Linked DNA regions of Homo sapiens. The protein of the gene in region 3 interacts with the protein of the main gene of each other region in a biochemical or structural test. Each region holds a gene or a part of one and is shown on either strand. Other genes may lie near its edges. The genes, in order: FOXI1, ARHGEF7, DLG3, SCN4B, GYPC, MTMR1 and SORCS3.

Evidence for each region.
Region 1: the proteins of DLG3 (region 3) and FOXI1 interact in a test that uses a peptide from one of them, tested with the Homo sapiens proteins (one large-scale study listed by IntAct).
Region 2: the proteins of DLG3 (region 3) and ARHGEF7 interact in a test that uses a peptide from one of them, tested with the Homo sapiens proteins (one large-scale study listed by IntAct).
Region 4: the proteins of DLG3 (region 3) and SCN4B interact in a test that uses a peptide from one of them, tested with the Homo sapiens proteins (one large-scale study listed by IntAct).
Region 5: the proteins of DLG3 (region 3) and GYPC interact in a test that uses a peptide from one of them, tested with the Homo sapiens proteins (one large-scale study listed by IntAct).
Region 6: the proteins of DLG3 (region 3) and MTMR1 interact in a test that uses a peptide from one of them, tested with the Homo sapiens proteins (one large-scale study listed by IntAct).
Region 7: the proteins of DLG3 (region 3) and SORCS3 interact in a test that uses a peptide from one of them, tested with the Homo sapiens proteins (one large-scale study listed by IntAct).

Annotation. Positions count from the first base shown.
Region 1 is NC_000005.10:170,104,458-170,108,696, reverse strand, and holds the start of FOXI1 (forkhead box protein I1), read right to left. Parts: upstream 2,801-4,239; 5' UTR 2,740-2,800; coding exon 2,166-2,739; intron 1,781-2,165; exon of another isoform or gene 1,636-1,780; intron 649-1,635; coding exon 86-648; 3' UTR 1-85. UniProt on the Homo sapiens protein: Transcriptional activator required for the development of normal hearing, sense of balance and kidney function.
Region 2 is NC_000013.11:111,272,310-111,275,809, forward strand, and holds part of ARHGEF7 (rho guanine nucleotide exchange factor 7), read left to right. Parts: intron 1-1,504; coding exon 1,505-1,643; intron 1,644-2,421; coding exon 2,422-2,481; intron 2,482-3,222; coding exon 3,223-3,369; intron 3,370-3,500. UniProt on the Homo sapiens protein: Acts as a RAC1 guanine nucleotide exchange factor (GEF) and can induce membrane ruffling. Functions in cell migration, attachment and cell spreading. Promotes targeting of RAC1 to focal adhesions. May function as a positive regulator of apoptosis.
Region 3 is NC_000023.11:70,447,835-70,451,334, reverse strand, and holds part of DLG3 (disks large homolog 3), read right to left. Parts: intron 2,423-3,500; coding exon 2,372-2,422; intron 1,977-2,371; coding exon 1,852-1,976; intron 1,646-1,851; coding exon 1,476-1,645; intron 1,167-1,475; coding exon 1,030-1,166; intron 697-1,029; coding exon 552-696; intron 1-551. UniProt on the Homo sapiens protein: Required for learning most likely through its role in synaptic plasticity following NMDA receptor signaling.
Region 4 is NC_000011.10:118,135,824-118,139,323, forward strand, and holds part of SCN4B (sodium channel regulatory subunit beta-4 isoform 1 precursor), read right to left. Parts: intron 1,298-3,500; coding exon 1,204-1,297; 3' UTR 1-1,203. UniProt on the Homo sapiens protein: Regulatory subunit of multiple voltage-gated sodium (Nav) channels directly mediating the depolarization of excitable membranes.
Region 5 is NC_000002.12:126,690,658-126,694,157, reverse strand, and holds part of GYPC (glycophorin-C), read right to left. Parts: intron 295-3,500; coding exon 211-294; intron 1-210. UniProt on the Homo sapiens protein: This protein is a minor sialoglycoprotein in human erythrocyte membranes. The blood group Gerbich antigens and receptors for Plasmodium falciparum merozoites are most likely located within the extracellular domain.
Region 6 is NC_000023.11:150,727,896-150,731,395, reverse strand, and holds part of MTMR1 (phosphatidylinositol-3-phosphate phosphatase MTMR1), read right to left. Parts: intron 1,288-3,500; coding exon 1,186-1,287; intron 872-1,185; coding exon 788-871; intron 1-787. UniProt on the Homo sapiens protein: Lipid phosphatase that specifically dephosphorylates the D-3 position of phosphatidylinositol 3-phosphate, generating phosphatidylinositol. Could also dephosphorylate phosphatidylinositol 3,5-bisphosphate to produce phosphatidylinositol 5-phosphate.
Region 7 is NC_000010.11:104,644,290-104,647,789, reverse strand, and holds part of SORCS3 (VPS10 domain-containing receptor SorCS3 precursor), read right to left. Parts: intron 1-3,500. UniProt on the Homo sapiens protein: Plays an important role in modulating synaptic transmission and plasticity in the hippocampus, probably by affecting the trafficking and localization ofAMPA-type glutamate receptors in the postsynaptic density.

The DNA.
Region 1 (4,239 bases), on a different chromosome or scaffold from region 3:
TCATGGACCACCGTGGGGCTGGCATGGAGGACCTCTACTGCTTTTCTCTCTGGCATGTCCACCTGGCTCAGGAGCTGTTCTGTACCTAGACCTCGGTGCCCTCCCTGGGGTAGAGGACACCACTGGTGTTGACACTGTTGTAGAAGTGAGGGCTGAATTGGCTGAGCACAGATCCTCCATAGCTGAGCATGTTGGTGGGCATGGGGTTCGCCCAGTCACCCCCACCGCTGTGGTTGCTGAGGTTGGTGAGCGGGGAGAAGGAGTTGAAGGTCAGTGAGTTCTGCCCCGTCTTGTCACTGGGCTCAGGGCTCAGTCCTGGTGTGACCAAGGGGTGGCTCGTGGGGCTCCCCCCGCTCACATAGGCTGTCATAGAGGAAAGGAAGCTGTTAAGGCAAGGGGCGCCTGATGGGGGAGGGGAGGGCCGCTTCTCTGGGGAGCTGGTGGTGCCCCCTGGTGAGGCTCCATCCAAGATGTCCTGAGGCTCCGTGGTCTTGGGGCTGTCCACCGGGAGACTGCTCTCTGTCTTCTCTAAGGCCAAGGAGGCTGTGCTAGAGGAAACATCTGATTTTCTCTTCCTTTTCCTGCGGAAATTTCCATTGTCGAACATTTTCTCACAGTTGGGGTCCAGGGTCCAGTAATTCCCTTTGCCTGATACAAAAGTGAAAGGGGGTAAATAGAGAGGTGGACAAAATGCTTTGCTTCTGTTCCTCCTTATTGTCATAAACTAAAAGCCAAGGTGACAGATGCAGGAAGACAGAGACCGACAGGCAGGGACTGAGAAATGGAGGAATTCCATCAACTGATGAACCACACCACCTCCATCTTTAATTAAGCAGCCCATGACAGGGCCCTTTGGGACTGCAGCCGAGAGGCATGAGCATTAAGGAGTTTGCAATGTAGGTCTCTTTAAGAAGGATGAAGAACTGGGAGCAGGGATGCTGAGGGATTTGGGGGTTGGGGGTTGGAGGGCTTTCAATGCTGAAGGAAAAGAAGACTCAGGAAAACTCTGGGACTCCCTAATAGCCGTAGGCTTGGAGTCTGAAGACAGACTTGAGTCCTGGCTTTGCTCCTCACTGACTGAGGGGCTTTGGAAGAACCTGTTTTCTAGTCTGAAAAGTGGGCCCATTGCCCCTGTCTTCCTCAGGCCCACTGAGAAAGGATCCACACCGGATATGGAAAGGAGCGTTGCAGCTGGGAGGTACCTTCCCGAGGGAAGGCCTGAACTCTTCCTGCTACCGTCTCTCAGCCTGAGGGTGATGGCAGTCCTTGGACAGGACACTTGCCCTCTTCTGGGGACAAACAGGCCTGGTGTTTGCCACCCTCAAATGGGGCAGAGTTGGGGTTCCTTTGAGCTATACCTTGGCTTCCTGCGGTGGAACAAAAGTGGACTTTAATTCTGGGAAATGGATGCATGAGTATTTAATACATGCCTCTCTGCAGGTCTCTGAGTTTTAGAAATGCATCGTTGAAAAGGAAAAGCTCACAATTTCTGATGTTAGAGAAAACTGAGTTCAAATTCAAGCTCCATCACTATCACTTCATTCTGTGTCACCTCTGAGTGTTATTTTCCTAATCTGTAGAATGGGTTTCATAAGAGCTACCCTGCAGGGGTGTCTTCGGGTTAAAGGAGGTTACCTAAGTAGAAACAAGGCAGGCAGCAAAATGGGCCATTAGTGGCTGTTTAACCCAGGTCAGATCCTCTTCCTGGCAGTCTTGGGATGCCCTTGGGCTTTGGTTGGTCCAGTCATTCATTCACCAAAGACTTTCTATGTGCTGGGTGCTGGAGATGCAGATGAATCGTAATTACTGCAGGCGATTAAGCGCTTGATAACACCTAAAACCTTGTGTACATTATCTCATCACCTCCACTGCAGCCTGCAAAGCAGATGCTGTCACTATCCCTGGTTTTCCGATGAGGGAACTGAGGCTCTGAGGTCTAACCTGCCAGAGGTCACTGACTGGGCAGGAGCACAGCCAGGGCTGAAACCCAAATCTTCCCCCAGGCCCATGCTCTCCTTCACTGCTGAGCTCCCCTCTGTCCTGCCTGGTAGCATCCCCCAGTCTTGGGGGGCACAGCCCTAGTCAGAACTTTCTAGAATGGGGTCTTGGGGAGGAAGGAAGTGAGTCTTCCTTGGGGACACCCCCCACACTCAAAGCCTCCTTACCCGGGTCGTCCTCGTCGCGGGGCACCTTCTTGAAGCAGTCGTTGAGCGACAGGTTGTGGCGGATGGAGTTCTGCCAGCCGGCCTTGCTCTTGTTGTAGAAGGGGAAGTTGTCGGCCACGTACTGGTAGATCTGGCTGAGAGTGAGGCGCTTGTCGGGTGCCCCGTGGATGGCCATGGCGATGAGAGCCGAGTAGGAATAGGGTGGCCGCACCAGCTTCATCAGCTCCTCCTGCGAGGGGATGGGCAGCCAGCCCAGGTCGCTCCCCCCAAGCCCCGACACGCTGGGCAGCAGCGGCCTCTGCACTCCATAGGCCTGGGGCAGGAAGGGGCTGGCGTTGGGGCCGGGCAGGTAGGGTGGCGGGGTCATGGTGGGCCCGTTGAACCAGAGGTAGGGGTTGGGGGTGGCCCCATACTCGCCGCCCCCCTCGAAGGAGGGCCGCTGAGGGCTGGGCACGCCCTGTGGGTGGAAGAAGTTCTCATAGTAGAGGTTCATCTCGGGGGGCTCCTGGCCGATGCTGGGGAACTGGGGGCTGCAGCGAGGTGGGGAGGGCGCCGGCAGGTCGAAGGAGCTCATGCTGGGGCTGGGCTGGCCGGAGCCACCTGCCTGGCACCTGCACCCCGGAGCTGCCCCTGACAGGTGCTCAGCAGGCCCGGCCTCCCACTTATACCCCTAGGGCTTGGCCGGGCGGCCCCACCCAGGGGCGGCCACCTGCCTGTGGATCCCAGCCCAGGGCCCGCCCTCCCTCAGCCTCCAGCCCACGGGGAGGGGACTTTCCCGCTGGCGCCTCAGGTCCCCACTAATGACATGCTAGACGGCTTACCAGAGCTGACACGCAGCGCAGCGAGAACGCCCCTCTATCCTCTCTCCCGGCTTTCTCTCCTGTCTTTTCTCACCATCCTCATGATTCCCTTCTTCTTTTTCTCCTTTATTCTGTCTTACTTCTCTCATTTTTTTTTCTGTCCTTCCCTTTCGTCACATTTTTCTACCCACCTCGGTTTCCTTCTCTCTCTCCCTCCTCTCCTCTCTGCATCTCATTCTCTGTTTCTTTCCTTCTTATTTTCTTTCCTCCCTTCTGCTCTGAACTGTGTTTCTTTTCTATGAACTGATCTGGCCACATCACAGCTGCTCATTCCCGTTCTCTCTCTCTCTCTCTCTCTCTCCCCCTCCCTCTCTCCCTCTCTCCCTCTGTCTCTAGGCTTCCAGTTCTTCTTTCCACTTCCATCTCTCGCTTCCATTCTCATTGTCTTCCCGGCTTCTCCCCTTTCTCCTTCTCTTTCACTCTGTCCCTTTCTCTCCACCTCTCATTTTCTCTGCGCCTCTCTTCCCATCCCCTCATTCTCCCTCCTCTTCCCCCCAATGTCCCCTCATTCTCTAACCAACTGCCCCAGCCGGGACTGGGTGGGACACTTTATCAGAAACCCTGTTTCTTGGTCTTTTGAGGTGAGGAGGCACTTTCTGGAGTTGCCAGGAGAGAACCGGCCCTGGAGACTCAGAAGAGGGCGCAGAGGGGCCTGGGCTGGCTTCTGGTGGGGTTCAAGGGGGCAACCAGTCATAGGCACCGCAGCCTCCCCCAACACACACATACACGCACACACGCGTACGCGCACACGCACACACGCGCACACGCACACGCGCACGCCCACACACGCGCACACGCCCACGCACGCACGCGCACACACGCACGCACACACACACGCATATGCATACATGCTGCAGACGGGCAGAGAACCTGAGAATTTGCCTGGAGAGCAGCAAGGCTCTTAAAAATAATAGCAAAAGGGGAAAATGGGGAATCAGTCTTCAGGGAAAAGTGAGAGAACTTGAACAATTCAAGTTTCTTTCCAGCTGCAGGGCAAGCAGGCTCCCAGCTCCTCTCTGATCCAAAGACCTTTCATGTTTCAGCTCGCAGAGGCCCCTGGCATGGAGGCAGCCAGGGCACGAGGAGAGCGCCCGACTCACCATGCCCCAGGCGTCCTCTCTCTCTCTCCCTCAGGCTCCAGAAGCAGGAGCTGCAGCCCCTGCTGGCTTCTCCCTGTGGCTCAGCCAGCTCCTCTCCTATCTGGGCTCCATCCT
Region 2 (3,500 bases), on a different chromosome or scaffold from region 3:
AACACTGTCTGTCTTTTCCCCGGGAGCCCTTGATGGTTCTGGTGTCCCCGAGACCTCTGGCAGTAGCCAGCTTGGCTGGGGTGGTGCGGTGGGAGGCTCCTGTGAGACCAGAACCGGAAATTGGCTTGTTTCTCAGTTTTGCTGTTAGGATTTTCATGTTTATTTTAGGACATCGTTTACATAATGAGGATATAAAAGTATCTTTTCCTTTTAAGGGAAAACCTCTAGACTAGGAAAATTTGTTCCTAGGATTTGTGCCATGGGTATCATTTGAACCAAGCTCTGCTGACTAGAGACCCCTATCTTCTAGGATGGGGCGTGGTGATGGGGCGGGGGTCACCTGGGTCTCCTGGATGGGATGTGGTGACTGAGAAGTCATCCTGGTCTGGACCTGGCATCGGCTGCCAGCGCTGGTGCTGCCTCCCCTCCTTTCTGTGGGCTGTACACTGTCAGATGTGTGGACTGATGGCACATGCAATTTGAGGGACAGCAGACCCAGGGCCTGACAGAGACCTCAGAGATCGCCAGTGAAGGGGTGTTGCGGTCAGGTGACTGTCAGCCTTAACAAACGTGTGGGTGAAGAGCTGGACCCCCCACAGAAGCCTGCCCGTGTCCTCTGCCACAGCCATGGGAACTCTGAGGACAAAGATGACACACATGAGGACCCACTGTAGGGAAAGATAGGCGAGGCACTGTGAAGGGGATGGTTGAAGAGGAATACAGAAAGTTCTAAAACTTGTTTCTGACTCTTTAATTTTGGGATATGCACTGTTTCTATGTCCATACACAGGGACACCTTCCTTCCTTACGTGTTGTGAGGATTGAATGTAACAATGCTTTTGAAGTTCTAAAGCGTAAATCAACATTCGCTGTCTGCACACAGGGACCCCTTTCTTCCTCACGTATTGTGAGGATTAAACTTAAAGCTTTTGAAGTTCTGAAGCCTAAATCAGCGTTTGCTCTCTTCTCTTGCTGCTTCTCGTGCTCCTCACCCCAAGAGCCATTGCCTACTCCCAGGCTGAGTGCTGGCAGCACATAGGTGGGGCCTGCTCGCTGGACGAACTCGCATCTGGGGATGACTACCATCAGTGTGCTCTAGCTCTTTACCGGAGCAGCTCGGTCCTTGTTCTACCACCTTGAGACTCTGAGATTATTGGAATCCATTCTGGCTCTGAGTGTGCATGTTTCCATTGGATATGTCTGCATGGCACTGATGTGCTGGAGGACCTCGCCATCAGTAGGATCTCATGGAGACCCACATGTCCTGTGCTGTGTATAGTTATTGTTGCTCATATGAGAGCAGGAACGGGACCCCTTAGGGATGGGAGTCCCCTTTGGCATTTCCAGATAAGCAGCGCAGATTTGGGATAAAAGCTGGAGCCTTCCAGATGTTAAAAGCAACACTTATGTTTCATAAATTCTGGCTGTTGCTCATGGAGATGAGAGAGCCACCATTGTCTCTCATTGCTAACCACGAGTGTCTCTCTTGCCACTTGCTGCCCAGTGAGGAGTTGGGGGAGTTCATGGAGACCAAAGGTGCCAGCAGCCCTGGGATTCTCGTGCTGACCACGGGCCTGAGCAAACCCTTCATGCGCCTGGATAAATACCCTACGCTGCTCAAAGAGCTCGAGAGACACATGGAGGTACTGCGCTTTCATTCTCTTACTTGGAGTCCTTACCAAGGGTTAGTGGCATGGTCAGACTTACTGTGAAAGAAAGTATTATTCATGATTTATTTTAGAAGCCAGAACCAACAGAGTTTACAAAGAGTTTTGTTAAATATTATGTTTTTCTCCTTATTCCAGCTCTATTAGAAAACATTTACCCCTTATCTCTCTTTTACCCACTGCTGCTGATTGAAAAGTTTCCAAAAGCTGAAACATGAGAACTGATTTTCAGATAGTGTTGAGATGTCTTACCTGGATCATCCAGCTACAAACAATGTGTGCATAGGTTATAGGGTAATACTGTACTAATCATTTGATGAATGATTGTGCTCTTTTAATTTTGAATAACAGGTTGCAGCCTAGCAGAAATTTGGGTTGAAGTTACTCTCTTGGCTTGAGTTGGCAAACCTTTTCTATAAGGGGGCAGACTGTAGGGTCTTCTTCACGGCTACACAGCTCTGCCATTTTAGATACTGTATGTGAGCCGTGGCAGTGTTCCAATAAGACTTTATTGATGAAGCAAGTGTTGGCTTCCCCACCCCTGCTGCTTGTGACTGTTCTCTTCCAACTTATATTTCCCCAAAGTCTAATGGCTTCGTGATTTGCTGAAAGACTGACACTTTAATGCTGAGGGAAAAAGGGAATGTTAAGGGTTGAAAAGTGTTAGAAAAGTTTCAAGCTGGTCTGTAGAAAGTACCTTTTTAAGAAAAGCTTTTCCTTATGAAAGCTAATTGTATGTTTCTTTTACTCAAAGGATTATCATACAGATAGACAAGATATTCAAAAATCCATGGCTGCCTTCAAAAACCTTTCAGTAAGTGATTAAGCATATTGTTTTCCCCCCCAGACATTATTGTGACAAATGAATGTAAAAGAATTATCAACTGAAAAAGTCAAATGATTAAAAAATGACTTGTGCTGACATGAAAGAAAAACAGAGTCGGCATTCTGTGGCTGGTAAACTCCTTTTAGTGGACTATGATAGAATAATTATTTAAATTTTTTAAAGTCACTGTGTAATTGATGTTAGATCTACTTTAAAATTGTTTAAAACATTTTTTTACCCTTCATTCATGTTGTCTTTAATGATTTATTGCAAAACAGAACAATGGTGGTTCCATTTTCTCTGCTGTTGTGTTGTCTTACCAACTGCGTTTTGGAAATATATGGCCTTATTTTATAGCACAAGTTATACTTTCTGTTTCTTCTTTTCAGTCTTCCATATTGGCAAACACGAACAAAACCAGAATGAAAATACAGTTCTTGTCCTGTCCACATTTCTTTTTTGTACAAGTGGCAAAATGTGCTCTATCTTTCTAAAATAATACTTAGTATTCCAGAGCAGTTGTGTGTGTTGCTTCTCTTAACTTGGTTTCATACTTCTAAGCAAATACTTTCAATTCCCTATAATTAAGCAAATCGCTCAATAAATTATCTGTCTGAAGAAGTAAGATATAAAGCAATAATTGTCTTAAGGATGATACAAAGCAATGTGGCCGGAACTTAACATTCTGAAAGTTTATGTCTGTTAACAGTGTTGTTCTGTGTCTGTCAGGCCCAATGTCAAGAAGTCCGGAAGAGGAAAGAGCTTGAGCTGCAGATCCTGACGGAAGCCATCCGGAACTGGGAGGGCGATGACATTAAAACTCTGGGCAACGTCACTTACATGTCCCAGGTCCTGATTCAGTGTGCCGGAAGTGAGGTACTGCTGCCCACATGCACGCACCAGGGTTTCTGTCCCACTCTTAGGAGCTCATAGCAGAAGATTTTAAAGGCATCTCAAGCGATGAAAAATGTCTAATAGAAGCTCTATCTTATAATTTGTGAGCTACT
Region 3 (3,500 bases):
GGTCAGGAGATCGAGACCATCCTTGCCAACATGGAGAAACCCCGTCTCTACTAAAAATACAAAAAATTAGCCAGGCATGGTGGCAGGCACCTGTAATCCCAGCTACTCGGGAGGCTGAGGCAGGAGAATTGCTTGAACCCAGGAGGTGGAGTTCGCAGTGAGCTGACATCGTGCCACTGCACTCCAGCCTGGCGACAGAGCAAGACTCCGTCTCAAACAAACAAACAAAAAAACAAAGACAGAACTGGGATCTGGACTCAGTTCTGTGCACTATCCTCTGCGGCTTCTCTCTCTCCTCTTTTTAAAATTCACTCTCCATAGAAATTGTCAAAAATTGCCAATGCTGACTCTATGGCAAGTCTTCACGATGGGGTACTGAGCAAAGTTTTCAATTAGCAATAATGGCGCCTCAGATAAACCTTATTGGCTGCTACAGTGCCACCACTGAGCAAAGCTGCTTGCCCTCTCTTAACAAAGGGTATGAACTTCTTCCCCTCCAGAAACCAGGGGACAGAGCTTTAGACCAGGGACAGGGGCTGATGAGTACGTACTGCTGGCGTAGTCAGGGGGAGCGTACATGTCGTTGAGGTGGAGGCTGCCTGGCTTGGCCACCTTCAAATACACCATATCAGATGTGTTCTTCAGTGAGGCCACAGCTTCCTCGTGCCTCACATCCTGCAGATTGGTGTTGTTCACCTAGAAGAGGAGAGGCCTCAGGCTGGGACTTGGAAGAAGGAGAGGCTTCTCCAGGGAACTCGAGGGATGCCTTTTCAGTGAAATTCAACAGCATGCTAACAAAGGCCCAAGTATAGTGCTGTGAGGAGCAGAGGCAGGAGGTAGGGGATAGGGCAAGACCCTGGCCACAGAAAGAATTAGGGCCTTTGTATCTGGGCAAACACAACACAGATGATAACTCTTGAAATTCCCCCATGATGCCTCATCCCTGAGTGAGGTTTAGGCGGAGTAAGGGGTACTGGAGCTCCTCCTCCCTACCCTACCATTTGGGCATCCCCATGAAGTCTGTCTCACCGCCAGCAGCCGGTCCCCAATCTGTAGGCGTCCATCCTTCTGAGCAGCACCCCCCTCAATGATCTTGGTGATGTAGATGCTGTTGTCTCCTGGGATGTGCTGGTTGCCAATACCCCCAGCAATGCTGAAACCCAGGCCTGAGCGGGAGCCAGCAGGAGGTGGGAGAGGGCCACAAGGAGAGGTTAAAGTGTTGTCGATCCCAAATCCAAACCCCCTCCCCCAGCCAACCCACTGGCCCCACAGGAGCTCCCCCCGGGGGATCCAAACGCTAAGCTGCCATCCTGAGATGAGTAAGGGTGAGGCCTGAGGTCAAAAAAGTAGGCTGTGAGTTGGAACAGGGGGAGTCAGGCAAGGAGTAAGGCCATTCCCTTCCAATTCCCTATGGGGCAAGATGGGATCTGGGGCCTAAGGCTCTGGCTGGAGCACAGGAACCTGGAGGGCCGCACCTTTGGGCCCTTTGAGCAGGTTGACCTCCATGATGGTCTCGGGTGGAGGCTGTCGCCTCCGCACCACCAATCGCACCACAGGGCCTGCCTCCTTCAGCGCCTCCACCGCCCGGCTGTGTACCACCTCCGACACGTCCACCTCATTCACCCGCAGCACACAGTCATTCACCCTGTGGGGGAAGCCCGAGAGGCATGACACTGTGCCCCTACCCCTCCACCCCCTCTCCTGCTTCCTCCCACTTCTCTGTCCTCCCCTCCTCTGCCCTCCCACCCCGCCCTCAGATCTAATGGAAGGGTCATCCTGCCAGGCAGGCTTTCCTCCCCTCATCTCGATCCTGTCCCTGCCACCCACAACCCTGCTTCCAGGCCATCTCACCCCAGCCTCCCATCCATGGCAGCTGCTCCACCAGGGATAATCTTGGTAATAAAGATGCCAGGGTCATCAGGGACATGGGGATTGTCGATGCCACCTGCGATACTGAAGCCCAGGCCAGAGTTGCCCTGCAGAAGTGGGTGGAAAGGCACAGTCTGTTCACTCTGAGGGCACAAAGGAGAGTTCTGGGTACCTCATCTCCCCTTATATCCCAGAGCTAGTTCTCCAGGCCTCAGAAGGGGCCATGGCAGGCTGGGCACATTTGTCAGACACCCAGCCTCTGCTGATCATTTTGGGAAACCCATCCCCTCCCCAATTCCCCAGGCCTCAGTGAGCAAGGTCAATTAATATTTGTTAGTGGGTTGATTGATTGATGCAGTGAAGCAGCCTCTGAGGGCCGCTGTTTCACCATCCTCTAAATGCAGGTCCCCCCATGGGTCTTGAAACCATGATTCAGGGGTCTCCCTTATCCTGGCTCCAACCCTCTCCTTCCCTTTCCGCTTTTCCCCACTGGCAGACTCACCCTCTCAAGTACGATTTCCTCATATTTGAACATGCCATCACTGCCATTCACCTAGGGGGAGACACAGGCAGTTCCCTTAGTGCCCCCTGCCCTTCCAGCCATCTGCCCCTTAGTCAACCTGCCTCCTCCCCTACTCCCACAGAGTAGAAGAGCCCAAGTGCACCCCAGGTCACCTCTTGGCCACAGATGAGGACAGGCTGACCTGGAAGAGGCCGCTCCTCACTCACCCCACCAATCCCTGCTTTGCTTCCAACCATATCAGCCCAAACCAAGCTGCTCATTTAGCCCAGATCAATTGTCTGAGACTGAGCCAGCCAGTGGTGCACTCACCGAGAGGCTGTGCTTCAGTGTCTCAGGGTTCACTAGGAGGGGTGCAGGCCTGGCCTAAGGGGGATGGCAGAGATGGAGCATGGCAGGCAAACCATGCCACACCCAGTGTCCATAGGGGATACCCAGTGGCCTAGACAGATAACCCTTCCCCTTCTGAACCACAGTTCTCCCTGACTGGGGGATCATAGACTCCCACTGTGTCCGAACTGGAAGGACAGCAGACATCATCTTGTCCTATCCCCTTTATGTGACAGTAGGTGACACGGAGGCCCAGAGAAGACATGGGATGTGCCTAAGGGCACACTGGGAATTAGTGACAGAGCAATAGGATATCCAGGTGTTCTTTTGATTACAGTAAGCTCTTAAGGCCACTGATGTTTTGGTCACTCATCCCCGTACCCCAGCAGAGCTCATGGGAAAAAGGACAGTTGCCCCACTTTGGAGCACCTCGTGAGTCTTCACTCTATACCTCTTTCTTGGACTCCAGGAACCCAATTCCTCAAATAGGCAGAAGGAGTCAAAGTCCTAATCCATTTTCTACCAAAGGATTTTTGATTCTGAGCCCTTTGTTTTTCCCAGCAGAAAGGGCGAGGGTGGGATCTGGTCAGGAGTCAGAGACAAAGCCACGGGTGGGACTGGAGCAGGGTAGACAAGATTCCCCATGAGGGAGAAGTTGGTGACCCACAGGCTGATTGGCAGCAGAGTCCATGGTTTTCAATATGTAGTAGCCATGCAAGAAGAGGCAAGGGAAGGGGTCAGAAACACAGGGGTGATTTGGCCAACCCACAGAGATGGCCTC
Region 4 (3,500 bases), on a different chromosome or scaffold from region 3:
GCTCTGGGAGAAGCAAAGGAAAACTGTGGGCACCCACTCCCTGCTCCTCCCCAACCCCAGGGTGGGAGGGGGTGGCCCAGCTGAGCAGGAAGCAGCTGGGAAACCCAAGGACCCCCTCATCCAAAGGAAGAGAGTCCCTGAGGCGAAGGCAGGCCCTTGACCCAGGGCTGGGAAATGAACCACCCTGGGGGCAGGGCGTGATGGAGGGCACGGTGGGGGGGGGGGAGCGAGCCAATGGGAGGTTGGAGGGTGCAGCCTCTCAGGTAGGAGGGGGAGAAGCAGGGGAGAGCTGGGCTCAGGAGTGCCCAGAGTGGCGATGGTCCTGCCATGCCAGGGGAGGGGCTGCCAGCATTGGCAGCAATGGGGCGGGCATCCCAGAGGCCCAGGACACTGGCTCACTACCTCTGTGGCCCAATTCCCCAAGTAGAAATGCTTGGAAAGGCATAGGGAGCACTCGGGTACTCCAGGAAGGCTCGAGGGGCCCCTTCCTGAGCCCCTCAGTAACCCAGAGAGCAGAGGAGCAGGCTAGGTGGCCAGGAACCCTCAAGACCAGGGTGGCCAGCCCTGGTTGAGAGGGCTTAAAAACTCTGAGCAGGGGAGGGGATAGGCAGATAGGGTCCCGGGGCAGGGGAAAGGAAGTTTCCTACTTGGAAGACTGTGGGGGATCTGGTATCCTATGAAGCAGAGGCAGTCTCTCACTGTGGGCCTGCCCCCATCAGCCCCCACCCCAGGTCTTCTCCAGAGGCCTCCAGCCCACTCCCACCTCCAAAGGAAGCCACTTCTTCCTACACCCCATCTCCAGGGTGCAGCTCTTAGGACATCCCTTACGGATCCTCCCAGTCTCTTGTGAAGAGAAGCCTGGAGGAAAATCAAGGCCCTGCTTGTGCAGGGTAGGGAGACTGAAGGAGACCCCATCTGCCCAGGTGTCAGGGGACCAGCCCCTCCACACCACCCTAGCCTCTCCTTTCTTTCTCCTGAATCTTCCACAGACCCCCTCCCCTGGCCATCCCTTGTCCCTGGGGAGCCCTGACTGGGAAGGGGATGGGCAGGCTGGGCAGGACTCTGGTTTCTTGTGCCCGGAAAGACTACAGTTTGAGCCAAGCAGCAGATGTCTCAGGCACGTGGGTTCTACGGTCGGGGCTCAAGCATCAGTTTCATCATCAGAAAGGGGGCTCCCTGCAGCTGCTCAGCCCGAAGCAGGGCTCACACTTTTGAAGGTGGTTTCTCCTCTGCCTTGGAGCCAGGCAAGCCGTTCTCCGTGTTGTCATTCCCCGAGGAGCTCACGAGACACTCCTTCCTGGAGAGGGAGAGAGAAGGGACAGTGGTGAGGAGAGGAGCAAGAGTAGGGGGAGAATTGTGGCAGGAGCCGTGGGCCCTGCACCCAGCCCTGTGCCTCTCCCTGGCCTTCTACAGAGCTAAGGTAGCCAGAGGCCATGTCACCTAACCTCTCTGTACCTCAGTCCCCTCATTTGTGAAATAGAGGTAGGGATGACCTTCTGCGTGGGGTTGCTGGAAGGAGAAATGAGCACTTAGAACAGTGCCTGCCATGTAGAAAGTTCTCAACTGGCCAGGTGCGGTGGCTCACACCTGTAATCCCAGCACTTTGGGAGGCCGAGGCAGGCAGATCACTTGAGGTCAGGAGTTCGAGACCAGCCTGGCCAACATGGCAAAACCCCATCTCTACTAAAAATACAAAAATTAGCCAGGCGTGGTGGCAGGCGCCTATAGTCCCAGCTACTAGGGAGGCTGAGGCAGGAGAATCGCTTGAACCTGGGAGGCGGAGGTTGCAGTGAGCTGAGATCGTGCCACTGCACTCCAGCCTGGGCAACAGAGCGAGACTCTGTCTCAAACAAAGAAAAAAAGAAAGTTCTCAATAAAGCTTAGCTGTCACCTAGTTGTCTCAACATGGCAGGAAGCAAAGGGCACCAGGTGCTGTTCTCAGGGGTCAGTTCCCAGGCTGTGCCACGCCAGGGGGAGGGGTCCAGGCCAGCAAGGAGTATGCTGAGGACACAGAGTCCCTCTCCCCAGGGCCCCCCAGGCCTTCCTCCCTGAGCTCTCCGTGACTAGAGGTATTAAGGGAAGAACAGAGTCCATGGAAGGGGCAGAGCAGGCAGTGGGTTTGGCTTCAAGGGTGACAGGTCTAGGCAGAGTTTGGTGGGACGGAGCAGAAGACAGGAGGAAGGAGAGATGGTGAGATGGGAAGACACCTCCCGGGAGGCGTTCCACCCTGACCGCTCTGAGCTGGACATGCTCCAACTTCAGTGTGTCCCTCCTCCACAGCAGCGCCCAGGCTGGGCACACAGAACTCCCCAGGGAGCACCTGCATCCCTCTGAGCTTTCTGCTCATGAAAATGGCCAAGTTTTTCACAGCTGCTACAGCCAAACTACATCCTACCCTCACCCTGGGCTTGGGCAGCTGGGTTTGAGGCCTTTGGGAAGGACTGAATATTTTGTCCTCATTAATTTCATCTTGCAATACCTAGTTCCTAGCTCCAGCCTATCAAGATCTTCCTAGATCCCTTTTTCTTCCAACATAGTTACTAGGCTTCTGGAAGTTGATAAATGTGACATCCCTAGTGTACTTCAAATGTTAGTAATAACAATGAACAGGTGGAGCCCTGTGGAATACACTAAAGACCTCTATTCGGATGGATCCATCTCTCTCTCTCTGTCTCTCTCTCTTTCTTTCTTTCTGTCTCTGTACCTAAGGCATAGTTAACCCAGCCAATTACGACCCACCGAACTGTATTCCACGCAGTCCATAATTCTCTACTGAGAACCTACTGGGTACCAGGCACTGTGTCGGAAACGTGCACTCTCCTAGGGCATGTGACATTAAACAAGTGATTGTGACACACTGTGGTAAATAACAGGATGGGGGATGTAGGAAGGAGGGACCCAACCTAGGAAGCCTCCTCATAGGAGTCAGGGAAGCTTTTTGGAAGTATACCTTAAACTTCCAAGCTTCTTTGAAACCAAGAAAGATGAGCAGGAAAAGAGAGAGGGTAAATTCCAGACAGAGGAAACAGCACCCACGTTTCAGAATCAATGGTGAGATGTTGTCCAGTACCTCCCTGTTCTTGAGAAGCCACTGTCTCTGCTGTAATGCAGGCATTCCCCGCCACTCCAAGGACCTCCCTCAGGCTTCCCTACGGTCTGTCCCCTGCCCCCAGGCTCTTCCACCCAATCCCTCCGCCCACCATGGCCAGATCCTTTCTTCTGTGCTCTCTGATCGTGCCAGGGCCCTGCAAGCCCTCGCCAGCTCCCCTGCCGTCGGAAGTCAATCACAGCCTCGACTCCCAGGTCCCCAAGTGTCTGTCCCCAACCCCTTCTGCAGGCTTTTATTCTCCTCCCCACCACCTCACCATACAGCTCTCTCAACAAACAAAAGGCTTGTTCTCCAGACAAGCCCACTTCCCAGACTCTCTGCCTTGGCTCTCAGTGGTGCCTCCATCTGGAAGAATCTTCCCTTTACTCTCCCCAGGGCTTAAGTTATATTA
Region 5 (3,500 bases), on a different chromosome or scaffold from region 3:
AATACATACATAGATACGTACGATGTATGCATGTATATATATATTTACCCAGGGCTAGACTCCTCCATTCCACATTCAAAACCACCTCTGAGGGAGAGAAAAAATGGCCACAGCCACCACTGCCCAAGTCCTTAGGTCAGTTCTCCCCTGGATGTTTTCACCAAGGCCCCCCACCCTGGCTGCTTGAAGGGCTCTGTGATGAGAGCTCACCTGCAATGACGACAATGTCCATTATGGTGGGGGTGGAGGTCTCCATTCTGCCATCCGGCCATCCAGACATCCCTGGATCAGGCTCTGTGAACAGAGGACAAGAATCTGAGGTCAGAGAGGAAGATTCTCCATGCCTAGCAGCACCTTGGCCCAAGCTGCATCCTTTGCTCAGGTGTGAGCAGCTCTGAGAATGGGTCCAAGTGGAAAGGAGCAGTGCGGCGCACCCACTGCTCCTAGCAGGGATGCACAGACCAGGAACCAGGTTCTGCTTGGTCACTGACTGGGATGGAACTGTTTGAACCTGAACCACCAGGTCACTCCAGGCCCATTTGAGTTATCTGCCTAATGCCTGCACTGAGAGTGGTGCTGCACGTGGTAGATGCTCAACAGATATCTGTGCTGTGTATGAAGGCAGGGACTCTTGTTGTGTTTAAGAAAGAATGTTTGTGGAGTGTCTGATGCTCACACCAGGTGTCTCAGTCCATTTTGTGTTGCTATAGCTGAATACTTGGGTAATTTATAAAGAAGAGAGGTTTATTTGGCTCACAGTTCTAGTGGCTGGGAAGTCCAAATTGGGCAGCTGCATCTGGTGAGGGCCTCATACTACTCCCACTCATGGCAAAAAGCAGAAGGGGATCTGACATTCGCAAAGAGACCACAAGGTGATATAGAAAGCAAGAGAGTTTAGAAAGCTGAATTTGCTTTTATAACAACCTGCTCTCCAGTGACTAATCCAGTCTCACGACAGCTAGAACTCCCTCCCTCCCTCAAGGGGGTATTAATGTATGCATGAGGGATCTGCCCCTGTGACTCAAATATCTCCCACTAGGTCCCACCTCCCATCACTGCCACCTTGGGAATCAGATTTCAACATGAGCTTTTGCAGGGTCAAACCACATCCAAACCATAGCACCAGGTGTTGCTTTAACTGCCTTCTATCTACTCTATCATGCAGTCTTCACATCCATCCTATGAGGTGCCTGGTGTTAATGGCCCATCTCACAGGAAGAACACCAAGGTTCAGAGACGTGATGTGCCCTTGATCACACAGCTCATCCGATATCAGGTCAGGACTTGGCCAGTGCTCTTGCCTCTGGAGTGCACTTTCTCTCTTGGAGAAGCCCTTCCCAGGGCTCCTGTCTGAGGAGTCATTCCTGAAGCCCTCCCATAGGTCTTTACATTGACTCTGCTGTGGGAAGGACCACTCTATGACACTATCCAAGTTACTGAGTGTGTTTTTTCACAGCTTAATGACCTGGCCAAAGAGGGTAGGATGTCTAGGACATTGGGGACCGGGATGTTTCCTAGAGCTGCTGCACAGAATGCCTTCTCTCCTCTGGGAGATGATTGTGAAGAAGGATTTATTGGATCACAGAAATATCAGTGTTAACATAGGAAATCCCACGTTCCCATTACAATGGCTCTACATAATAAAACAGAGAAGGATGCTTCATAATAGTCATTTCCACTCAGATAATCACTTTAATTATAGTGCTATGAGGTCATTCTCCCCAGTGCAGCTGCCAGATGCCTCTTTCTTATAAGTAACTGCCTGCTGGAGTCAGGAGTCATAATGGGTGAGGGGAAAACAGACTCCCAGCTAGGGGTCCACAGCAGGACACAGATGGGCCAAGCTAGGGGTGTCTGGGGCCACCAAGGAGCTTGGAGGTGGGGAAGAAGATAATACAAGGCACTGAGGCAGCCCAGGGACCCAGTGAACACTGGCTCAGGATCTGGGTCTCGGGAGCCAGGAACCAGGCAGGGTATAGGATCCAGCATTCACGGTGTTTCTCAGTAGCAAGACCTGAAGCAAGGGCCGTAGCAAGTTCAAGTGGGTGCTAGACTTTATTATATAGAGTGAACAAGTGCAGCCTCCAGTTTAGTATCTAGCACATAGTAGGTACTCAATAAATATTCACTGAATGCATGAGTAAATGCATGCATATATAAATGAATGGATTTAGTGGTGGGGTTCTAGACTTTTCCAATCAACAAGCACCTCAAAGTTCAGAAAGAAAGAATAACACCTTGCTTAAGTAGGCATGGATGGTTATAGAAGCTCAAATACCCAGAACTGCCCTCAGAAATTTTCCAGGTGAAGACAGCATTTATTAGGACAGTTTGTCCAACACAATCAGCGTTAGAAGAGACTGTTATTTCCTCTTCCTTTAAAACAACTAACAATCGCTTACTAGGTGCCAGGTGCAGGTCTCAACATTTAAAGCAATTTAACATGGTCCTTGCAACAGTTGCAAGAACACTGCTTGGAGATTATTCATTCTAAAACCAGGGAAGTCCCAGAAAACAGGGCAGAGCTGGTTGCTGTATGTACACTATACAGGGGGAAAAATGAGGCTATTAACTGTGCTTGGGGCAGGTTGTGTGGTTTGTGTTTTTCAATGGCCCGATGACTGCTCCTCAGCCTACCCTGCTCCCATTCCCTCCTGGCGATTGAGGACTGGGGTGAGTCTGCAGGAGGAGCAGGACTTGGCCACACAAAGGACTGAAGTGGGAGAGGGTAACGCAGAGAATGCCAAGGTGTTGGCTGTGCGAGGGGCAGTCACCCCTCACTTCTGCTGGGACTCCAGAGGGGTGGGGAAGTACAGTGTAAGGCTGCTCAGGAGGGGTCAGATCACTCAGGACCTTGAGAGTGAGGGGGCAGCAGTCTCATGGGGTGGGGGTGTTTTGAGTTTGGGCATTTACTTTGAAGCTGCAGAGCAAGCCTCTGTCTTTTCTTAGAATGCAGGTTTATTTGGAGGCCTTGGGGAGGGACTGCTGAAGAATATGGAAAGTCTGAAACTGCTCCCAAGTCCCACCTTTATAGAACAATTTCCTAAACTTCCTACTGCCTTCAGGGGAACACTTGTATCTGCATAATGTTAATAATATCACCTAGGAAGAATAAAAGCTCAGTGGTGCAATGAGTTGGAGAATGCCAGGTTACACAGAGTCCAACAGGTGTCTTTGATTGCTTGCTTCTGCTGCTTTTTCTTTCTTTTCAAATTGTAGATGTTTCCTGAGTTATTAATAAGCTGCTGAGAAGTGTGGATCTCAAAGAAGGTCGCAGAGCACACAGCACCTCCCAAACTTGGTTGTTCTTCAAACACAGTTTGCAGTCACAGCCATGACCCATGGGGAGCCCGTTGCTCAGGGTTCAAAGCAAGGCAAAGGCAGGCTCAAGTTTCCTTGAGGATGGAGGGTTGGGGGTCATGGACCCAGGGAAGAAAATAATGTGGGATGAGGGAGACGGTGGAGAAGTCTAAGTAGCCTGGTCAGTCTACCCTCATCTC
Region 6 (3,500 bases), about 80 Mb from region 3:
TACATCCATTTCTTATTTGCAACTAAAATCCGTTTATAATTTATTGTTTATTGTAACTTAAAAGTCAATATATATATTTATTCGGTAAAACCCATTTCCTAGACATTTCTAAAAATCTAAAGAAGCATAAGAATATCCAAACCATACTAAAACATGAAAATTATACGCTAGAATCACATTTCTATATATTTCTTGTCCTATTTTCTATAAATAATGAGCTCTGTTATTTTTGAGAATATACTCAAAAGTCCTTTAGAAACACAGATACCTCTTACGAATGTCTAAAATAAGTAACGTAAAACATTATACCAAATATAAGGTAGAGACAACGTCATGAAACAAACGTCATGAAAATAAGATCTTAGTGGAATAATTTGAAGCTGACAATGCACTGAAGAGTTCCCAGACCCGGGAACACTGGATCAGACAGATGTAGTCACACCACATGCTTCGAATCTAACTGTAGTCAGTGGTTTGGATCCTTACTCATCAATTCTTTACCAGAACATCTAATAAAAACCATCTGGCAAATTTGGTTTTTAAACCCGTCCTTGTCCTTGAGTCCCACTCACCCTCTGGAAACAGGATGAACAAACATGACAAAGTCTAAGGTTTGGCACAGGGAGAAGAGAGAATCAAGGAAAGATGGAGAACCTATAAGCTAGCAGTTAAACCTGTGCATAACTTGTTCGAAAAAGTTTCTTCTCCACCACATCATTTCTAACCTTTTAGAAGAGAAAAAGATGCTCAACCTATTATTTTCAGTTTGATAAGCAATATACTTTACCTGTCTCTTATATTCAGATACTGGATCATAAACTTTCCAGCCATTAATTGGAAATTTTTCTTTATAGCTGAATGCAAATAGTGCCTGGACACAAAAACCACAAAACACATATGTTACTATTTCTTTTTATATCATATACCCAATATTAAAGCTTTTCATTCTAATATGAGCTGAGTGTATTAAGATTCCTATTTTAGTCTGTAAATTTTACAGCAACAAAGTAGCAGCTTTTCTTAAGCATTACCCAGAACTGACAAATTTCAAATATTCTAATATTAGTCACCAACAGAGGAAAAAAGAGAGGAAAAAAAAAAACCTCTGGAAAAAGGAATAATTAAACATAGGATATTTGGACCCCCACAAATGCATGCAGAAAAGGTTTACTCTGGTGTATTTACCTGTCCGTTAGAAAGAGGAAATGCATGTTTGTTGAGGTTTTCAAATATCCCTAGTTTACTCTGTTCTTCCTGTTTATAAGCAAGCCGCAAGTTCCTCATATCCTGTTAAACAATTAGCAAAACTCGGTTATTCAACATACATCAGGCACCTATAAGCCAGATACCGTGCCATAAATAAGGAAATTATTTTTTTTTAATTCATTTCTCCTTTTATACTTTATCCTGCTCCAACGGCACAGTCTCCACTCATTGCAACCTCCGCCTCCCTGGTTCAAGCAATTCTCCTGCCTCAGCCTCCCGAGTAGCTGGGATTACAGGCACCCACCACCACTACCGGCTAATTTTTGCATTTTTAGTAGAGACAAGGTTTCACTATGTTGGTCAGGCTGGTCTCAAACTCCTGACCTCACGTAATCCAACTGCCTCGGCCTTCCAAAGTGCTGGGATTACAGGCATGAGCCACTGCGCCTGGCCCCACTTATGTTTTCAAAGAAGGACTATACATACATTCTCATGTGCATAGGCTATCTGTGGAGGGTTACATTAGAAATCGGCCACAGTGGGTGCCTGAAATGAGTGGAACAGGGTGGCAGGGTGGTGGGTGGAAGGAGACTGATTTTTTACTATACACAGCTTTTGTATCTTTTGAATTGTATATCACCTGTTAAAAAATAAACCCCACACCTTGTAAAGCTCTTAGGCATGATCTGAGAAGGCTGGGAGCATTACCTTAGTAATCTAGGTTAGAGAACATTTAAAGCAGTTGTTAGCAAATGCTCACCCCAGCCATAAAAATATCTTAGTAAAAGAGCCCCAGGATGCCTGCCTAAGCAACATAATTTCCTGACATGCCCTCCCTCTAAGCTACATGGCTACACACATACACCTTGGTGGCTGACTGAGCTGACTTGCTATTTAAGATTGCTTACAAGCTAAGGAAAGAGCACATGCAAAGATTCTGGGATGTGTGTGTGTGTGTGTGTGTGTGTGTGGGTGGGTGTGTCAAGTATGAACCACCAAAGGAAAGCCCATGTGACTGGGATGGCCAGAATGAGAGGAGGGCAGTTCGAGACCAAGCTGCAGAGGAAAGTGGGTCAGGCAGAGCAGTCTTGTAAGGAGAGTTTTTCTTTTAGTCTAAGGATAATGGGAAGATACTCAAGCGTCATGAGAAAGGGGACGACATGTTTCAAAATTGCAGAACCGATCAAGTCACCCCTCTGCTTGCCATTGTTCCATATGGGGAACCCTGCCTGAGAAGGACAGTTGTCAGGGAGTGACTAAAGTGAGTTTAGTAAGCCAACAGATTCATGATCTGGAAGAGTAAAGGGTTCTTTGGAAAAAAAAAAAATGGTTTTGAACGCAGTCTAGGACCAACCAGAGGGAGCTATCTTCAGAGATTGAATCAAAATAAATAGATTGTAAGGAATCCTAACCCAAAATTTGGAAGGGGCGCTGATGATCCTGCAGGCAGGATCTCTTTTCTGGTACTTCAGGTAGGGTTTTTGGTAAACATTACCAAAGTCAAGTCACTGGGAATAAAATACATCAATTAGGAGTGGGTCCTACATGACTTCGTGATTAAAGTTATCACACACATTTCTACTTAAATTATTAGAAGAAGGGTACAAAATAAACAAATAAGCCCAGCTCAACATAAAAATTCCAAGATAGCCAAGAAACTTAATCTCATTTTTAATCACAGAATTTATGGGCCACTGCTGTCCCTTTAGGAAGTCTCTGACCATCCACATTGTTCTGAACGTAGTCTTAAAACAACAAACTGGGGAAATGTATTGGTCTCTGCTTTTCACTTGACTTCTCTGAGATGTGACAAACAATCACTTAGGTTATAGGTCCACGTTAATTAGAAATACAGTCAGCCCTTCCTATCCATGGGTTCCACATTGGAGGATTCGAACAACTGCAGATGGAAAATATTTTTTAAAAGGATGGTTGCATTTGTGCTGAACATGCACAGACATTTTTTCTTGTCATTATTCCCTAAACAATACAGTATAACAACTATTTACATAGTGTTTACACTGTATTAGTTATTATAAGCAATATACAGATGATTTAAAGTATATGGGAGAATGTTCTTAGGTTATATGCAAATACTACATCATTTGACATAAAGGACTTGGACATCCATGGATTTGGGTATCTGAGGCAGAGGTCCTGGAATCAATCCCCCACCGATACCAAGGGACAATTGGACTTCGATGGAAAAGGTTTACTTCAAAGGGTTACATAATAGTTTAAATTCGATATGAGATTTGAAGAGGTTGCTATCCCGAAAACATTTGAGTTACTAG
Region 7 (3,500 bases), on a different chromosome or scaffold from region 3:
ATTCATACATGAAATAATACACCAGTTGTCTAAACTCAGTGTTATTAAGAGACAGTGTTAACCTGTTAGTTATCTTAGGGCAAAATGATCTTCTTTCCTCTCCTCTTACCCTGCAGCTAAGGCACAGTCCAACTCCCCAGGTGAGTTCAGTATTACTGAGCTATGTACTACCCTACGGCACATGCTGCCAGGCACGGATGAGAAGAACAGAACTCGCACTTGATGGTGATTGGAGGGAAGGGGTGCTGTTTTAATTATTTCAGCTCTTACCCTCAAATCACTCACCAAATAATATAAGACTAAAGTAAGTACTAAACTAAATATGACAAAATGTGTGGTGCACTCTGCAAATTCTATAAACAAGTAGGGGAAAAGAGAAATAAATGCTTCTAAGGAAAGTTTCACAGAGCCACTGAGTCTGAATGTTGAACTGAGCTATGAATAACAGGTGCCCTTTCATCAAGAAAGAAGGGTACCCCAAGTGGAACAGACCTCAAGATGCTTGGGACAATGAAGACGCTGCCCTGGCCAGAATGCAGGAGTCAATCAGGGAAGAGTCAAATCCAAAGTTGGAGAAGTAGACCCGGGACATACATAGCCTTGAATGCCAGGCTAATGGACTCTGGATCTGAATTTAAGAAACCGAAGTTCCTCAAGCCAGAATGTAGACACACTGGATGAAACACTCCTGGCTATGGTAGCTGTCAAGTTCTGAAATCATTGCTATCCCAGGCAACAACAATTTCTAATTCCTTTATAGCCTCTGCTTGATGAGACTTGAGACTGTCTTTCATTCACTCAGTCAAACATTATCAAGTGCCAACCATGTGTAAGGCAAAGCTCCCTCATCTCCACTGACTACCAACAAAGTCAGAGCCCTATCCAGAGCCTTTTCTCAGTTACCCACAACACCAGGAGAATAAACTTGGTTAGCCAAATTCGATCCATCCCACAGAGCCAGTTCTGCTTACCAGAACTGCCTAGTGACCCACTAGGCACTCACATTCTATATCTCCCACCTCCTCCTCCACAAGGCCTCTTTTCTCCTTCAAACTTACTGCAGAATCCTCCTTTGACATTTTCTCCCTGTAAGGGAAGTGTCTCAAACCAGCCAAGAGGCCAAAAGAAGGCAGAAAGCGGGAAATCAACAGGTAGGTCAAGCCACAGGCCTTAAGTGACTTAGCCAATCTATACCTAGCCTTGGATAAACCACTAGTCTCCAGCCAAATCTTTCTATCACAGAGTGTCTGCTTTGTTGCACCTCTCTGCTCCTTATGAGATGATTCAGGGCCCACAGATCATCCAGTTCCAGGATTCCTTCACTGACAATAGATTTACACAGCCCAAAGAAAAAGCAATTTTCCCTTCTGTCCACTGAGCCTTCCTGCCACTGAAGTCACCCTCCCTTTCCCTTAAATCCAACACCACTGGAGAAGCCACTCCCGGGCATTCCTTCTTTGCCAGCTACAAAGCAAGTTCCAGCCACTGCATTTCTGTAATCATTAAATCAGGCCTCCCAATTAAGGAATCTGCAACTTCTGCTCACCTTGGAAATCACTGAAGGATCTGAGAAGGAAATCACATCCTGTAATCCAGCCATCAGAGAAATCACTGAGCAGATAAATAGGCTGTGCCCAGCTCCTCCTCTCCCTACGGCCCCTCAGACCAACAATGACCAGGAGCAATTAGTACCGTTATGTCCCCATGCATTTCCCAGCTACATCTCAACTGAGATGGTTTCCCCTTGTAATACTAATTGAAAACAATTTTTTTGGCAAAACCCTGAAGAATGGCTTCTGTGGCAAGCTTCTTTATTAAGCCTCCAAAAAGGCAGAATGCATTAAGATATTGTGACACAGGAACTGTGAGCAGGGAGGATGAAGACAAGCAATCCAGCCAAAAGCTATTTGAAAAATCTGTTTGGGAGCCACAATTAGATGATCCAGTGAGTGAAATACAATTAATCTGATCAAATCTGTCACTATTTTGCACATTAGGAGTAAATATTTTAGAACACAGTCCAGCTGAATTAGTTAAGGGTAGGAAATCCTGCCTGGGAGAATCTGTGTTACACCTACTAGTACGCTCAGGGCAGGGTGATCTGGGAGGGCCTAGAAATATCAGCATCTCCCCATTTCTCTTCACCAAGATGCAGTGTTGGGCCCATTAATTGAGAACTACCTGGCAAGTATTCCAAGCAGATACACTGCAGGGGCAGCAGCCTGCAAATCGCTGCCACTTCGAGTGCGCTGCTGGAAGGAAATGAAGACCAATGTGAGGGCAGATGCAGTGTTTTCACCTTGGCACCAGGAATGGGGGCCCCATGAAGGGTTAATCCAAGAAGGAGGGGGTGTGGAGAAGTGGACTGTGCCTTCACAACTTTCCACTCTCCAGAGCCATTTGCCAACTCACTGAGCAAGCAGGGAGGCTTCTTCTTTCATTTGAAGGAAAAGGACAGAATAATGTGTTTTTCTGTTTCCCTGTAAGCCACGGGGACTGGGCTCCCTCTGGGTGTTTTTGAAACACTCTCTAACCCATTAATCACCAGGATTCCAGCTGGAGGCAACTGGAGAGAAAAAATAGCAAATCGCTCCTCCAGAGTAAAGGGTCCAAGGCCAAGTCCACTCACTTTCCAGCCAGAGCACCTGGCAGGCAACATGGTCAAGAGGTGGTACCCAGATCCCATGCCCTCCTGATTCCTTTGCCCAAAGCCAGTTGCACTCCTTCTCCTTTGTCCCCAAAGCCATCTCTTCTCAGTCCTGGGACCAAGGCAAATACCCAGCCCAAGCCTTGGTCAAGGGTCTCCTCCTGCACCCTCAACCACCTGGGGCACACACTGGACCAATGGGGTGGGCTGAAGGCCCTTCTCCTTCATGTCCCACCCTGCATCCCTGACTGTAAACTCAGTCAGAATGGAGTTCAATTTTCAATTTCATAGGGTTACTGAAAACGCTCCCCAAAAGGGAACTCATATCAAGCAATCAGGTGCATCAGAGACACTTGGAAGAAGAGCAAGGAAACCCTCATTGTGTTAAAAATTAAACTGGTGGCCTCCTGAATAAGGACATGTCTAATACTCCAGAAGCCAGAATAAAAGATAAAATTCTCTTTCCACGTCATAAGAGCCTGGAGCTAGGCCCCATGTTCTCTGTTTTACGGACATCTCCCTCCACTTTGAAACCAATGATGAAGGAATCTTCCCAAAGTGTCCTCATCCCCATCACTCTTCACCCTGGCTTTTATTTACAACACCTTCTTTTCCTGCCATCAGGAAAGGGGGACAGGAGAAAAACCAGCTGGGTCAATGTTGCTGAAACTGGTTTCCCAGTGACTCTCCAGGAGATTTCCTTAAAGTCTCAAAGACAGGGCCATGTGAGTATGCTTCTCCATCTTCTTTACACAGGCTCACAGACCTGATAATCAAGGATCTCTCTCTCGTATTGCCTACAAAATGTGGTCAGAAGAGACAGGTCCAGCCTAGGGGCTAAAGAGGCAGTTAT